Regions from separate parts of the Homo sapiens genome. Here region 2 is linked to region 1. A link means that fine-mapping ties the variant in region 1 to the expression of a gene that starts in the linked region. Tissue or cell type: blood mononuclear cells. Region 1 holds a variant in brackets; the other region holds the start of a gene. All regions are shown on one strand. Distances are from middle to middle.

What was found. PIP is the estimated chance that this variant, and not a neighbour inherited with it, causes the effect.
Region 2: it holds the start of MRPL38, and the variant in region 1 is fine-mapped to the expression of MRPL38 in blood mononuclear cells (TOPMed, PIP above 0.99).

The regions. Positions count from the first base shown.
Region 1 is chr17:75,870,301-75,878,461 of GRCh38, reverse strand. TRIM47 (tripartite motif containing 47) reads left to right here. Exons shown (of 6, transcript NM_033452.3): 1 at 1-588; 2 at 1,649-1,744; 3 at 1,970-2,200; 4 at 2,363-2,561; 5 at 2,988-3,062; 6 at 3,339-4,298. The coding sequence ends at 3,979. Among named protein-coding and RNA genes, the nearest start is that of TRIM47, 4.2 kb to the left of the region's middle. RefSeq lists silencers at 1-46, 177-556, 567-746 and enhancers at 1-506, 507-1,422, 2,233-2,302, 1,423-2,338. The variant A/G (reference allele first, on the strand shown) is at 4,179.
Region 2 is chr17:75,901,814-75,909,980 of GRCh38, reverse strand. It overlaps MRPL38 (mitochondrial ribosomal protein L38), which reads left to right and starts at 5,097. Exons shown (of 9, transcript NM_032478.4): 1 at 5,097-5,172; 2 at 5,262-5,441; 3 at 7,827-7,961; 4 at 8,061-8,167. The coding sequence starts at 5,106. It overlaps FBF1 (Fas binding factor 1), which reads left to right. Exons shown (of 30, transcript NM_001319193.2): 30 at 1-407. RefSeq lists silencers at 4,692-5,171, 5,182-5,231, 5,252-5,301.

The sequences.
Region 1 (8,161 bases):
CTCGCCTGCCTGGGCGCGCTCTGGCCGCATCGTGGCGCGAGTGGAGCCGGCGGACCCGGAGGCGCGGCCCGCTGCCCGCTGTGCCAGGAGCCCTTCCCCGACGGCCTTCAGCTCCGCAAGAACCACACGCTGTCCGAGCTGCTGCAGCTCCGCCAGGGCTCGGGCCCCGGGTCCGGCCCCGGCCCGGCCCCTGCCCTGGCCCCGGAGCCCTCGGCACCCAGCGCGCTGCCCAGTGTCCCGGAGCCGTCGGCCCCCTGCGCTCCCGAGCCGTGGCCCGCGGGCGAAGAGCCAGTGCGCTGCGACGCGTGCCCCGAGGGCGCGGCCCTGCCCGCCGCGCTGTCCTGCCTCTCCTGCCTCGCCTCCTTTTGCCCCGCGCACCTGGGCCCGCACGAGCGCAGCCCCGCCCTCCGCGGACACCGCCTGGTGCCGCCGCTGCGCCGGCTAGAGGAGAGCCTGTGCCCGCGCCACCTACGGCCGCTCGAGCGCTACTGCCGCGCGGAGCGCGTGTGTCTGTGCGAGGCCTGCGCCGCACAGGAGCACCGCGGCCACGAGCTGGTGCCGCTGGAGCAGGAGCGCGCGCTTCAGGAGGTGGGCTCCGGGGGCACACTCGGGTGAGCCGGGGCTGGTGACCGACCGCGCGCGAGCGGGCCGAGGACCTTGGACCCCCCAGTCTTCCCGGGTTGGGTCTTAATCTCCTCCTCTAACCTGAGGATCTTTGCGGTCCCTTCCAGCCTTGACAAGGTCATCTGCTGGCGGTGATGGAGATGGGAAGGGAGGAAGGAGGGACGTGAGAACAGGACAAGGACGCGAAGAGCGGGCAGGGGACCTGAAGCCGGGCCGGGGTCTATGGGGGTGTAGGCGGGAGGGAGCCGGGTTAGGCCCGCGGGGTTCCGGTAGCGTGGCTGCTGCTCCCGCCCGGAGGGTCACGCCGGTCTCAGCTCAGATTTGCCCTGGGCTGAGGCAGCAGCTTTCGATGGGTGTGGCAGGCGGCAGGAGGGCGGCAGAGGGCGACCGGGCACACAGATTCTCTGTCCAGCTGTTCCGGGGGCCAGTGGTGGGAGCATGTGAGCCGCGGCCTCTACCTCCCGCCCCCAGTTTCCTTTGGCCTCCAGCCCGGTCTTGGCGCCTCTGGCCAAGGGATTTTCCGTTTCTCCTGCCTGGAGCAGTGACTCATAAGACCTAGGGGATTTGCCCGGAATCCCCTTTTTTCCAGGCCTGGACTGTGGATGCAGGCTCTTTGGGAACAGTGATCCTCAGGACAGCTTAATGCCTCCTTGTGCAGTCACCCCTCCGCCGCCCACCTCCCAACCTAACTGGCTTACTCTCTGCCTCTTCCCCGCCGGAGGAAGTTCTCAAATTCATCTGAGCAACACTGAGACCAGCGGACGGCCCTGTACTAGGCCTCCTGTCAGAGACCCGAGGCAGACACCCAGTCAGCCTGCACGCCCCCCAGGCGTTCAGGAAAGGCACCAGCCTGGGCTGCAGGCACCTCTGGCATATTATGGGACATCGTGGCCACTCCAGTCCCACCTGATGCACAGATACCACTCCCCAGTCACCCCCTTCTCTCCCCTGGCAAGGCCTGGGACCCGAGTGTAGGGCTGTGGCCTCTGCCAGACCTCACACTCATGGAGGGTGTTGTCCACAGGCTGAGCAGTCCAAAGTCCTGAGCGCCGTGGAGGACCGCATGGACGAGCTGGGTGCTGGCATTGCACAGTCCAGGCGCACAGTGGCCCTCATCAAGGTCAAACACCCCTCCCTCAGCATGGAACAATCCACTCCAAACAAACCATGCCCATACCTACTGAGCACAAGTGTCCCCTGACCTGGCCCAGATCCAGGACAGGCTCAGTCTGGCCCCTCTGTCCCCTCAAGAGGGCCGGTGGGAAGCCGGGGTCAGGGAAGGAGGGGGGTACAGTCCGGGACGGTTCTTTGCCCTCATTGCCCCCTCTACTGTCGTCCTGTGCAGAGTGCAGCCGTAGCAGAGCGGGAGAGGGTGAGCCGGCTGTTTGCAGATGCTGCGGCCGCCCTGCAGGGCTTCCAGACCCAGGTGCTGGGCTTCATCGAGGAGGGGGAAGCTGCCATGCTAGGCCGCTCCCAGGGTGACCTGCGGCGACAGGAGGAACAGCGCAGCCGCCTGAGCCGAGCCCGCCAGAATCTCAGCCAGGTCCCTGAAGCTGACTCAGTCAGCTTCCTGCAGGTGAAGGCCGCTCTGGGGGCCACGGAAGGAACAGAAGCTGGGACAGGTGGGGTGGAGGGAGGAGGAGGCAGTGGGTGCATGACTTCCTGGCAGAGCTGCCTCCACCCCCAGCAAGGAGGAGCCATGGCCAGCAGCACTTTAATGGGCATTTGTCTGGCACAGGAGCTGCTGGCACTAAGGCTGGCCCTGGAGGATGGGTGTGGCCCTGGGCCTGGACCCCCGAGGGAGCTCAGCTTCACCAAATCATCCCAAGCTGTCCGTGCAGTGAGAGACATGCTGGCCGTGGCCTGCGTCAACCAGTGGGAGCAGCTGAGGGGGCCGGGTGGCAACGAGGATGGGCCACAGAAGCTGGACTCGGAAGGTGGGCACCGCCCCACGCCCCCCCGATGACTCACCCTCTGCCAGCCTCTCGCACAGGCCCCCAGGCCTGGCGCCCATCCAGAAGTGGAGGAGGAAAATTGTGCCTGGCACAGGGAGGAGCCCAAATCCTGCCAGTGACTAGAGCTGCCACCCTGTGGGGATCAATCAGCCCCTTGGACCTGGGGTAGAGGGGGCTTCTCCTAGCCCACCCTCTAGCTCCAGAGGGCTGTGGCCCGGGAAGCACATGGGGCAAGAGGCAGAACACAGGCAACGGGCATGTGTGTGAGCACAGCGTGCCACATCTGGGTGGTGCTTGCTCCCTGGTGGCTCTGGACTCTGGGAGGAAGTGAAGGGGGTAGGGATTGTAGTCACAGGTTCAGAGGGGGGCAGTCTGGGGGCGTTCTCACCACTGTCTCCTCTTCTACAGCTGATGCTGAGCCCCAAGACCTCGAGAGTACGAACCTCTTGGAGAGTGAAGCTCCCAGGGACTATTTCCTCAAGTGTAAGTGGACGCCCGTGCCCCCTCCACTCACACTGGGCCCTCCCAGGGCTGCTGGGCTGGTCCCAGCAGGGCCCTGGCACACAAGGGTTAGGATTCCTCTCCCCAGTTTGTGGGGAGAGCTAGGGCAGCTCCTGGGGTGGTCCCCGGCGGGGCTGGGTTGTGCCGGTTGGAAAGCAGGGGAGAGGCTGTGTTTTGGGGGGGTGGGTACTTGGGGAGGGGCCGTGCCCTCTGAGCCTGGCCCTGAGCCCTGCCTCTCTCTTCTGTCCACGGGATCAGTTGCCTATATTGTGGATTTGGACAGCGACACAGCAGACAAGTTCCTGCAGCTGTTTGGAACCAAAGGTGTCAAGAGGGTGCTGTGTCCTATCAACTACCCCTTGTCGCCCACCCGCTTCACCCATTGTGAGCAGGTGCTGGGCGAGGGTGCCCTGGACCGAGGCACCTACTACTGGGAGGTGGAGATTATCGAGGGCTGGGTCAGCATGGGGGTCATGGCCGAAGACTTCTCCCCACAAGAGCCCTACGACCGCGGCCGGCTGGGCCGCAACGCCCACTCCTGCTGCCTGCAGTGGAATGGACGCAGCTTCTCCGTCTGGTTTCATGGGCTGGAGGCTCCCCTGCCCCACCCCTTCTCGCCCACGGTTGGGGTCTGCCTGGAATACGCTGACCGTGCCTTGGCCTTCTATGCTGTACGGGACGGCAAGATGAGCCTCCTGCGGAGGCTGAAGGCCTCCCGGCCCCGCCGGGGTGGCATCCCGGCCTCCCCCATTGACCCCTTCCAGAGCCGCCTGGACAGTCACTTTGCGGGGCTCTTCACCCACAGACTCAAGCCTGCCTTCTTCCTGGAGAGTGTGGACGCCCACTTGCAGATCGGGCCCCTCAAGAAGTCCTGCATATCCGTGCTGAAGAGGAGGTGATGCCGGGCACGGGCGCTCCTGCTGCCGTCTCTGCTCCAGGAAGCTGCCTCCTCTGGGCCCTCTCCTTCGTCTGGGAAGGCACCAGCATGAGTCCCACACACCCAGCCTTCTCATTTCTAGAGGCTTCCACCTTTTTATACACTCAGCCTTCCCTCTCCCAGGCAGGAGGACCCCCAGACCCTGTTCCCCTGCAGACCTC[A/G]CTTCTGGGAGACAGAGCTACAGCTGGGACAGCTCCAAGCTACCCTAACCCCTCCTTTCCCAGGTTTCTAGAATAGTGTCTGGCATGTAGTAGATGCTCAATAAACACTTGTTGAATGAATGACTCCTTTTCCATCCTCTCTACCCAAGGATTCCCAGAACCGCTCTCATTTGTAAGCTGGCTGAGTGGGCAGGCAGGAGAGGGGCCGGAGCCCCTCGTCCCAGGATTCCTGTTGAGAGGGAGCCCTGGCCTGGGAGAAGGGGGCTGGAACAGGGTACCTGCCCTTTGGGGCACCCCCACTCCCTTTTTCCCAGCACGGGCAGCCAGAGGTGGCTTCTCCAGCCCCACTGCCGTCCTGGCTGCTTGAGTGTTTACTTGGGATGGCCTGACTCCCACCAGCTATTTTTATCTTTCATGCCGCAGCCTAGTTCTGGACCTGCCTTTGCTGTTTGTACTGTTTGTGCCCAGCATTAAATGCAGGCATCACCCCTCCAGGAACAGGGCAGGACCCCTGGGCGTGGGCAAGAGAGTTTTGAGACCTGGAGCTTCCTTCACACATAGCCCTCAGCCCACAGAGCCGGCCCAGGGTGTGGCTGGAGCCCAGAACATCTACAATAAGAGAACTTATGTCCTGGCCGGGCGCGGTGGCTCATGCCTGTTATCCCAGCACTTTGGGAGGCCAAGGCAGGCAGATCACTTGAGGTCAGGAGTTCGAGACCAGCCTAGGCAACATGGTGAAACCCTCGTCTCTACTAAAAATACAAAAATTAGCCGGGCATGGTTGTGGGTGCCTGTACTCCCAGCTACTCAGGGGCCTGAGGCAGGAGAATCACTTGAACCCGGAAGGCAGAGGTTGCAGTGAGCCGAGATCAATTATACCACTGCACTCCAGCCTGGGCGACAGAGCAAGACTCCATCTCAAAAAATAAAAGGACTTATGTCCCCCTCTGGAATCTTCTTGCCCTCCATGCTGGGGACACCTGTGACCTGTGCCCCAGGAGAGCCTCTGCCTCTCTTCTGGGAGGGCCCAGTGCCCTCTGCTGCCCTAGAACCTGAGCCAGGCCTGGGGCGCCCTGAGGCTACAGTCCAGTGTGTTTCCAGGCCCAGGCCAGCTCACTCCTGCCTGGGTTCTGTGTGGCCCAGGTGCACCCCAGAGAGGGGCTGTGGCCGAGGGCAAGGGCAGACAGAGAGGCCTCTCAGACAGACGCCCAGCTCAAGGTCAGGCGGGATAATGGGTGAGTTATGCAGCCAGACAGCAAGGCCATACAAGTCCAGCCCCAGCAGCCTCAGCAGCTAAAAATAGCCCCTCCCATAGAGCCTGCCTGGGCTCTAGCAGCCAGGATGTTGTTTTTCCGGGCGGGGCCTCCTTGCCCCTGGTGCTTTGTGTTTTCAACATCGTTCCCTTGGCAGCCATGGGTCCCCAGCTCACCCGGCAGTGAAGGGGCTGGTGGAGAAGGCTGCCCCGCTGTCCCCTTGGATGCTCCTTGGACCACCTACTACAAGCCTCCTACCTTGCAGAGGACCGCTCCCACCCCTCAGGCCACCTGCTGTCTCATCTTGTCCCCCAACTTGGCACTCCCTACCCCACAGGCGCCCCTCGCCAGGGAACCTTCTGGTCTCTGACCCTGCAGGAAGTGTTGGCATGTCCTGGAATGTGAGCTAGACAGGCCTGGTGCTTTCTTGGTGGAATTCAGGCATGACTAGTCACACCTGTGGCCACAGACACAGCCACTCAGCAAGCATGCCATCTGCAGAGTGGCCTGTAGCTCCAGAGTCTTGCGTGGAAGTTTGGGAAACAAACATCTCTTTAAAAAAATATTGAGGCTGGGCATGATGGCTCACACCTGTAATCCCAGCACTTTGGGAGGCTGAGGTGGGAGGATCACTCAAGCCCAGGAGTTTGAGATCAGTATGGCCAACATGGTGAGACCTCATCGCTACAAAAAACAAAAATAAAAAAAAAATTGGGGCCAGGCGCGGTGGCTTACGCCTGTAATCCCAGCACTTTGGGAGGCCGAGGCAGGCGGATCACGAGGTCAGGAGATCGAGACCATCCTGGCTAACATGGTGAAACCCTGTCTCTACTAAAAATACAAAAAATTAGCCGGGCACTGTGGGGGGCGCCTGTAGTCCCAGCTACTCGGGAGGCTGAGGCAGGAGAATGGCGTGAACCCGGGAGGCGGAGCTTGCAGTGAGCTGAGATAGCGCCACTGCACTCCAGCCTGGGCGATAGAGTGAAACTCCGTCTCAAAAAAAAAAAAAATTGGCCAGGCGTGATAGCTCATGTCTGTAATCTCAGCACTTTGGGAGGCCAAGACGGGTGGATCACGAGGTCAGGAGTTCAAGACCAGCGTGGCCAACATGGTGAAACCGTGTCTCTACTAAAAATACAAAAAAAATTAGCTGGGCGTGGTGGCAGGCGCCTGTAATCCCAGCTACTTGCGAGGCTGAGGCAGAGAATCACTTGAACCCAGCAGGCAGAGGTTGCAGTGAGTCGAGATCGTGCCACTGCACTCCAGCCTGGGAGACAGAGTGAGACTCCGTCTCAAAAAACAAACAAAAACAAAAAGCCAGCATGGTGGTGCACGCCTGTGGTCTCAGCTACTTGGGAGGCTGAGATGGGAGGGTCCCTTGAGCCCAGGAGGTTGGGGCTGCAGTGAGCCATGTTCATGCCACTATACTCCAGCCTGGGTGACAGGGCGAGACCCTGTCTCAAAAATAAATACATAAAATAAAATACATTGGCTGGGCGCGGTGGCTCACGCCTGTAATCCCAGCACCTTGGGAGGCCGAGGCGGGCGGATCACGAGGTCAGGAGATCGAGACCACCTTGGCTAACACGGTGAAACCCTGTCTCTACTGAAAATACAAAAAATTAGCCGGGCACGGTGGTGGGCGCCTGTAGTCCCAGCTACTCGGGAGGCTGAGGCAGGAGAATGGCATGAACCTGGGAGGCGGAGCTTGCAGTGAGCCGAGATAGCGCCACTGCAGTCCGGCCTGGGCAAAACAGCGAGACTCTGTCTCAAAAAATAAATAAATAAATAAATAAAAAATATAAATAAATAAATAAAATACATTTTAAAATGTAGAGACGGGGTTCTGTACCCTGCCTGCAACAAGCATTTTAATCCCATATCCCTGTATTGCAGCTTTGCAGCTCAGAGCCAGGGATTGGCTGGCCCCTGGGTGCACAGCTAGCAAGGGGCTGGCTCTTCAGATCCCAAGTTTCAGACTCCGAAGCCTGGAGTGTTAGCTACAATCTCGCATTTCCTTTGTCACCCTGGAGTGTGAGAGTGTGTGTGTGAGTGTGTGTGTGTGGTCTGCATGCCTATGTGTTTTGTGTGTATGCGTATATGTGCGTATATCTGTATACATGTGTGTATGTCTTCGTGTGTGTCTGTGTGCTGTGTGTGAGTGTCTGCCTGGGTGAACGCCTGTGTGTGAATGCATGTTGCTCCAGCCCAGTGACTTTTCCAACAATGCTCTGAGAAGACCTAGGAGGAGGTGCACTGAGCGGGGTGGGCTGGGGAAAGGCTGGGGGAGGTCCCTCAGCACCCCTGCCAACACCTTAATCAGAGAAGCATTTGCCTATTTGATTCAAGGCTCCTTTAAAAAAAGAAACTGTGAAAAAGAAAAAAATGAGAAAACCACCGATCTAGTCTCAACGTTCCCCTCCCACTACCATTTACAGAGGAAGAAACTGAGGCACAGGGGTACTGGGGGGGCTGCCCACTGTTACCCAGTCCAGAACACTCTTTCCATACCGCCCAGCCTAGGTGTGTCTTGTGCTTAGAAATGCCTAAACAAGCCAGGCGTGGTAGCTCATGCCTGTAATCCCAGCACTTTGGGAGGCTGAGGTGGGTGGATCACTTGAGATCAGGAGTTCGAGACCAGCCCCGTCTCTACTAAAAAATACAAAAATTAGCCGGGAGTGGTGGCACGTGCCTGTAGTCCCAGCTACTCGGGAGGGTGAGGCAAAAGAA
Region 2 (8,167 bases), 32 kb before region 1:
CTGCCCAAAGCCCAGCTCAGCGGGTACGCAGTGGAGGCGACAAGGAACCAATCACAACTACAGAGGTTTCTCTGATCCTCCTCCACTCCCGCTGCTTCAACTTGACTAAGCTTAAAAAAACTGCTTTTGCCATGGCTCATCGGAGTTTATACTTATTTCTTAGAAAATGTTTCCTGTTATTTGCTGGACAAGTCCCAAAGAACAGGCAGATGTTCTTATTAAAAGATCAGCCTATAAGATTGGTCAGGACCAGGCGCCTCTGGCCACGTGCCTCTCCCCTCCAGCACCTGCGGTCTGCGGTGGCACCTGGCAGCTGGACCACAGCCAGGAGAAGGGTACTATTAGCCCTGCTTCAAACATGCAGAAACTGAGGCCCGGGGAGATTAAATAACCTGCCTGAAATGACAGTGAGTAGCTGCGCCTGGATTTGAGTTCTGCTCTGGCCAATCCCCAAGCTCCACGCTGTCAGCCACCCCGCTCTCCTACCTCCCAGAGGAGCAGGCTACACTCCTGGTAGGTGCTGGTGTGGGAGGAAGATCTTTTCAGGCGCTTCTGGGGCTGGTACCAACACTGAGGAGGGAAGTATCACATGCCCCATTGGAAGCCTTGGTTAAGTCTCAAATTTGATTCTCCACAAAAGAGACTCAACCAGTCCTGAGGCAGACCTGTGCAAAGAGCTGGGGGGGTCTAAGGATGGGCACGTCGGCCCAGGGGCAGCTGGTATCTAGGCAGCCACCTGCAGGACCTGCAGGTGATCAAGCACATACATCGGGGAGGGCGGTGCTGGGAGACCCACAGGGGGAGAGCATGGCCTTCAAGACAGAGTAGGGAGAAGAGGTTAGAATGAGAGGGCTTTGCATATCTTGTTAAAGACGTGCAACTTTTCAGGGCAAATTTGTCTGAGGGCAAATTTTCAGGTCTTCACTAGAAGATTTTAAACAAGGTTGAACCATATTTGTATTTTAGAAAACCCATTGGCCAGGCACGGTGGTTCACGCCTGTAGTCCTAACACTTTGGGAGGCCAAGGTGGGTGGATCACTTGAAATCAGGAGTTCAAAACCAGCCTGGCCAACATGGTGAAACTCTGTTTCTACTAAAAATACAAAAAAACTAGCTGGGCATGGTGGTGTGTGCCTGTAATCCCAGCTACTTAGGAGGCTGAGGCAGGAGGATCGCTTGAACCCGGGAGGCACAGGTTGCAGAGAGCCGAGATTGCACCACTGCACTCCAGCCTAGGCGAGAGAGCAAGACTCCGTCTCAAAAAAAAAACAACAACAAAAGAAAACCCATTGTGTCTGCAGGGTGGGGACCGGACCAGAGGGGGCAAGAGTGGGACAGAGGATGTGTGGGAAGGCAGCTGGCAATGGTGCAGGGGAGGGACTGTGGGCAAGACTACCGGGCATGGCAGGGAGGGCCCACAGAAAAGTGGCCCTCGGGCCTAGTGCCAGTCATGGAGGATCAGAAAGGAAGACGTGTTGAGGACGCCCAGGTTCCTGGCTTGGGTGACTGGGTGGTGTCACAGATGAGTATACAGTGCCGGGGGGACAGCCAAGCAGAGACATTCCACAGGCACTCAGTTATAATGGCACTTTACTCAGTGTAAGCACTCAGCATTCCTGTCACCGCCATGAGGGTGTGGCAGGCATCCTAATTATCCCCTTCAGCCTTCTCCCAGGCCACAGACACTGGAGAGGGCTGAGTACAGAAATGAGTGTTGTGTAGCTGCAGCTCTTTTTTTCCTTCAAAATTGTAAACAAGATCATAACCCAAGTGCTTCATTCAGTTCCTTTTAGAGAGAGAAATATTGCGGCCGGGCGCGGTGGCTCACGTCTGTAATCCCAGCATTTTGGCAGGCCAAGGTGGGTGGATTACCTGAGGTCAGGAGTTCGAGACCAGCCTGACCAACGTGGTGAAACCCCGTCTCTACTGAAAATACAAAAATTAGCCGGGCGTGGTGGCGTGTGGCCTGTAGTCCCAGCTACTTGGGAGGCTGAGGCAGGAGAATCGCTTGAACCCAGGAGGGAGAGGTTGCAGTGAGCCGAGATTGTGTCACTGCCCTTCAGCCTGGGTGACAGAGTGAGATTTTGTCTAAAAAAAAAAAAAAAGAAAAAAAAGAAAAAGAAATATTGGTGGAATGTAATGGGTAAAACATACTGGTGCAGGTGCCGGGCGCAGTGGCTCACGCCTGTAATCCCAGCACTTTGGGAGGCCGAGGCGGGCGGATCACGAGGTCAGGAGATCGAGACCATCCTGGCTAACACGGTGAAACCCCGTCTCTACTAAAAATACAAAAAATTAGCCGGGCGTGGTGGCGGGCGCCTGTAGTCCCAGCTACTTGGGAGGCTGAGGCAGGAAAATGGCATGAACCTGGGAAGCGGAGCTTGCAGTGAGCCGAGATCAGGCCACTACACTCCAGCCTGGGCGACAGAGCAAGACTCTGTCTCAAAAAAAAAAAAAAAAAAAAAAAAAAAAACTGGTGCAGTGGTACACACCTGTAGCTGCTATCAGGAGGCCAAGGTGGGAGGATGGCTTGAGCCCAGGAGTTCAAGACCAGCCTGGGCAACATAGTGAGACCCCCATATATTTTTTTAAAATGGTAGAGCCACTGCTTCTAGTTTCAAGATATTCATCGTTATTTGCTTCAAGTTGGTACACGTGGGAATCCACGTGAAGCCTCTCTCAAACTGTTAATATCCAAGCAAGCGCCAATCAGGGTTCTAGGACAGCAAGAGGACAAGAATGGAGGAATGCACCGCCACCTGGGTGGCCAGCAGCTTCCACGCCAACTGCCAAGGCCCCATACATCTTCATCTGGAGAGGGCTGGGAGGGTCGTGGGGTAGAGCGGGTGGGTTTAGAGGCTGAAGAAAATGATTCAGAAACAAAAGGACAAGGTGGCCGGGTGCAGTGGCTCACACCTGTAATCCCAGCACTTTGGGAGGCCGAGGTGGGTGGGTCACCTGAGGTCAGTAGTTTGAGACCAGCTTGGCCAATATGGTGAAACCAAGTCTCTACTAAAAATACAAAAAATTAGCCAGGCGTGGTGGTGCATGCCTGTAATCCCAGCTACTCGGGAGGCTGAGGCAGGAGAATCACTTGAACCTGGGAGGCGGAAGTTGCAGTGAGTCGAGGTCGTGCCCCTACACTCCAGCCTGGGCGACAGAAACTCCATCTCAAAAAAAAAAAAAAAAAGGACAAGGTAAAACAGCCACGATGTAAACACACAATCCAGTTATGCTCCTGTACTGCATAACTGCAGTATGGAATGTCACAATAAGCAACTCCTTACGAGCAGGACTGGGTGTGACTGCCCCACGTATTCCCCTCCACACTTAGCATGTAGCAGGTGCACACTGCTGGGTGGATTAGAAATGACTGTGAAAGGTTTAGCTGTTTGGCTGCTGTTTATGAAAACCAGTGGAAGGTGTGGCCACTTCCTGCTGGATGGAGAGACCCTCATTCCATTCTCATTCCATCTCAAAGTGATTGTGAGGGTCAAGCTTCTGCTGGTGCCAGAGCCACTGGCCTGGTCACCACCAGCCCTGGCCTGGGATGTCAGAGCAGGCTTCCTGGAGAGACCCCTCTCCTGGGGCTGGGTGGTGGCCAGGCCAAGGTGGGGCAGTGAGGAGGTGAGAGGCAGAAGACACAGCGTATACAAAGGCCCCGTGGCCTGGAGGCAAAGTGCGATGGAAAAGTCTTGCCTTTTAGGGCAGGAGGGCCAGGGCTGGGGCAAAGGAGGGTCCCAGATTCCCCAGGCTACCAAGTTTTGCCATGGTAGAACTGGATCACAAGGGCAAGCCTGAGTCCTGCCAGAAACATTCACATCTGCACTTAACCAGGTCACTTCTGCCTTTGTGTGGATAATGAGAAGTTGGAGATAGTTGAGCTAACACACAAACCACTGCGAGCGCTTTCCAGAGGGTAATCTTTTCATCCTGACAGCTGTCAGGTAAGCACTAGTGTTAACCTGCTTTTTCCCAAATGAGGAAACCACAAGGAAGACAGTAAGGTCACGATCTGGTTTTTTTTTGGGGGGGGGGAGGGGCATTTTGAGACGGTGTCTCACTCTGGCACCGAGGTGGTGGCGCAATCTCGTCTCACTGCAGCTTCTGCCTCCCGGGTTCAAGTTAATTCTTGTGCCATAGCCTCCTGAGTAGCTGGGATTACAGGCGCCTGCCACCACGCCCGGCTAATTTTTGTATCATTAGTAGAGATACAAAAATTTTTGTATCTTTAGGGTTTTGCCATGTTCGTAGGGCTGGTCTCAAACTAATTACCTCAGATGATCCGCCCACCTCGGCCTCCCAAAGTGCTGGGATTACAGGTATGAGCCACCGCGCCCAGCCACAATCTGGGTTTTTATTACTATTATTTTATTATTATTATTATTATTGAAATAGAGTTTTCACTTTTGTCGCCCATGCTGGAGTGCAGTGGCGCGATCTCGGCTCACTGCAGCCTCCGCCTCTGCCTCCCAGGTTCAAGCGAGTCTCCTCCCTCAGCCTCCCGAGTAGCTGGGATTACAGGCGTATGCCACGCCCGGCTAATTTTTGTATTTTGAGTAGAGACGGGTTTTCACCGTGTTGGCCAGGATGGTCTCGATCTCCTGACTTCGTGATCCACCCGCCTTGGCCTCCCAAAGTGCTGGGATTCCCGGCGTGAGCCACCGCGCCCAGCCCTCAATCTGGGTTTTAAACCCAAGCAGAGTCCGGAATCGGAGCTCGCACCCCTTCTCCCAACCAGGCCTGCGTCCCTGGGGAAATCAGGACGCAGCGTCCAGGGGTTGGAGGAGGGCCCCGGCGGCCGACCCCGGTCTGTGCCGCCCCCTGGTGGCCAGCCATGGGCGAGCATATGACTGCTCTCGGCTCCGCCCCGCCGTCCAACGGGCACTTCCGGAGCCGGGCGTCTACAGACCGCGGCCACCTTCCACCTGCGCCCGAGGCAGACGGTGCAGGGGCCTCCGGGACAGGCGTCTGAGGCCTGCTCCGCAGCGCGGGCCCGGGGGCGGGCCTAGGGGCGGGGCCTGCTGTGGTGCGCTCAGGCACCGCGCTGGCCACCTGTGCCCGGGTCCTAGTGGCGGCCGCAGTGTCGCAGGCCGGAGGGAAGATGGCGGCGCCCTGGTGGCGAGCCGCGCTGTGCGAGTGTCGGAGATGGCGGGGCTTCAGCACCTCGGGTGAGGGGTGGGCAGCTCTGCGGGGGGGGGGGGGGGGGCTGTCGCCCGAGCTGTGGGGCGCCGGCCTTACGTCTTCTCTCTGCCCGCAGCCGTCCTGGGCCGCCGGACACCCCCGCTGGGGCCGATGCCCAACAGTGACATCGACTTGAGCAACCTGGAGCGGCTGGAGAAGTACCGGAGCTTCGACCGCTACCGGCGCCGAGCAGAGCAGGAGGCGCAGGCCCCGCACTGGTGGCGGACCTACCGAGAGTATTTCGGGGAGAAGACAGGTGCGGGGCGACTGGAGCAGGGGCTGCAGCCACCGCCCGGGGAACTCGGGACCCGCCGGCGTTTTCCCCGGGCGCTGGGCGAGCCTTGCCGGCGCCCTTGTGGATGCTGGGGACGCTGGGAGGGCCTGCCTGCAGACCTGTGTGCGCTATCGGCAGCTTAATCACCCCAGGATTTTTCACACCTTCTGCACCTCATTCTTGGAAAATTCGCTCCCCCTACTATTAGAGTTCCAGCTCCTAAAATATTTGCTCCTAAAATCTTGACCACCTGACTTTCCGGATTGGGATGCCGTTCTGTGCGCCTCAAATACTCTGTAGGTAACTCTGGCCACACTGCATTCTGACTGTGCGCTGCCTCTCCCCAGATTGTAAGCGCCCTGTTGACAGGGATCCTGCTTGTCTTGCCCTCCATTGGATCCTTGCACCCGAACAGTGCAAGGATGTACATGTGCAATACTTTGCTGAATGAAATTAAAGGCCTGGGCAGGGTGACTCAAAAAAGAACCCAACCTGGCCGGGCGCGGTGGCTCACGCCTGTAATCCCAGCACTTTGGGAGGCCTAGGCGGGCGGATCACCTGAGGTCGGGAGTTCGAGACCAGCCTGACCAACATGGAGAAACCCCGTGTCTGCTAAAAATACAAAATTAACTGGGCGTGGTGTCGCATGCCTGTAATCCCAGCTACTCGGGAGGCCTCTGAGGCAGGAGAATCGCTTGAACCCAGGAGGCAGAGGTTGCGGTGAGCCGAGATCGCGCCATTGCACACCAGCCTGGGCAACAAGAGCGAAACTCCGTCTCAAAAAGAAAAAAAAAAAAAGACCCCAACCTTTAAGGAACTTACAATTTATGGAGTATATGCTTTTCTTTTCTTTTCTTTTCTTTAGCATTTATAGAGGCAGTTTTGTGGTGGTTAAAGGCACAAGCGTGGAATCTAAATAGCCCGATTTAAATCCTAGCTCAGCCTCTCGGATAATGTCCTTGAGCTTGTTTCAACTGTAAAATAAAATAATTGTGTCTTTGCTACAAAATTGCTGTGAGGATTAAAAGAGGCAATTCATTGGCATTTTTGCCTAATGCCATCTCTGATGAGGGCTCAGTATGTTTTCGTTATTATTATTTTGTTTTGTTTTGTTTTAAGGCAGAGGCTCGCTCTGTTGCCCAGGCTGGAGTGCAGTGGTGCGATGACTCACTGCAACCTCTGCCTCCTGGGTTCAAGCGATTTTCCTGCTTCTGCCTCCAAAGTAGCTGACACTACAGGCATGCGCCACCACGCCCAGCTAATTTTTGTATTTTTAGTAGAGATGGGGTTTCACCATATTGCCCAAGCTGGTCTGAAACTCCTGACCTCAAGTGATCCCCCTGCCTCAGCCTCCCAAAGTGTTGGGATTACAGGCGTGAGCCATAGCACCTGGCCGAGAAGCACTTCTATAAGTCCTTCTAGCATCAGTCATTCACTCTACCTAGGACAGCTGGGTGTTCATAGCCACCTGTGAACAGGCTTGGAGGTGATCTCAACTATAATTGGAAGGACCATTGACTTCAGTTTCCCATGACCTAGACAAAACTGTGACCTGGTTTGGGGATCAGAAAAACACAGCCTCCAGCCTAGCCAACATGGTGAAACCCCGTCTCTACTAAAAATACAAAAAAAATTAGTCGGGCATGGTGGCAGGCGCCTGTAATCCCAGCTACTCAGAAGGCTGAGACAGGAGAATTGCTTGAACCCGGGAGGCAGAGGTTGCAGTGTGCCGAGATCGCGCCACTGCACTCCAGCCTGGGCGAGAGAGTGAGATTCTGTCTCAAAGAAAAACACAACCTCAAGTTGTATCTGATTTGCTTCCCAGTTACATCCTATTCAGGTCTGGGAAGTAGACTGCACAGTATGTTTTAATTCTGTGAATCACAGGGAAAGCTTGAGCAGCAGAGCTTGAAGCACAGAATGAGAGGACTAGGTAGGGACAGGCAGTTTAACCAAGAAGATGTGCCCGCCCCCTCACTGGGTGCAGTGGCTTGCGCCTATAATCCCAGCTACTTAGGAGGCTGAGGCAGGAGGATCACTTGAGACCAGGAGTTTTGAGACCAGCCTGAGCAACATAATGAGATCCCATCTCTCAGATTTTTTAAATTAGCTACCATGGCTGGGCGCAGTGGCTCACACTACTGTAATCCCAACACTGTGGGAGGCTGAGGCAGGCAGATCACTTGAGCCCAAGAGTTCATACCAGCCTGGGCAATGTGGCAAAACCCTGTCTCTACAAAAAATACAAAAATTAGCCAGATGAGATGGTGTACACTTGTAGCCCCAGCTACTCAGGAGACTGAGTTGGGGAGGTTAAGGCTGCAGTGAGTCATGACCCTGTTTTTCCCACACATCTTCCCACTCCAGATCCCAAAGAGAAGATTGATATTGGGCTGCCTCCACCCAAAGTCTCCCGGACCCAACAGCTACTGGAACGGAAACAGGCCATCCAGGAGCTTCGGGCCAATGTGGAAGAGGAGCGGGCTGCCCGCCTCCGCACAGGTAAGCCTTCTCAGGGGAGGGGCCATCCCAGAGTTGGGGTACAGGGTGTGTCCCTGCCCCCCCCACCCCCGTATCCCAACTGGCCTTATTCCTGTCTAGCCAGTGTCCCGCTGGATGCCGTGCGGGCCGAGTGGGAGAGGACCTGTGGCCCCTACCACAAGCAGCGTCTGGCTGAGTATTACGGCCTCTACCGAGACCTGTTCCAC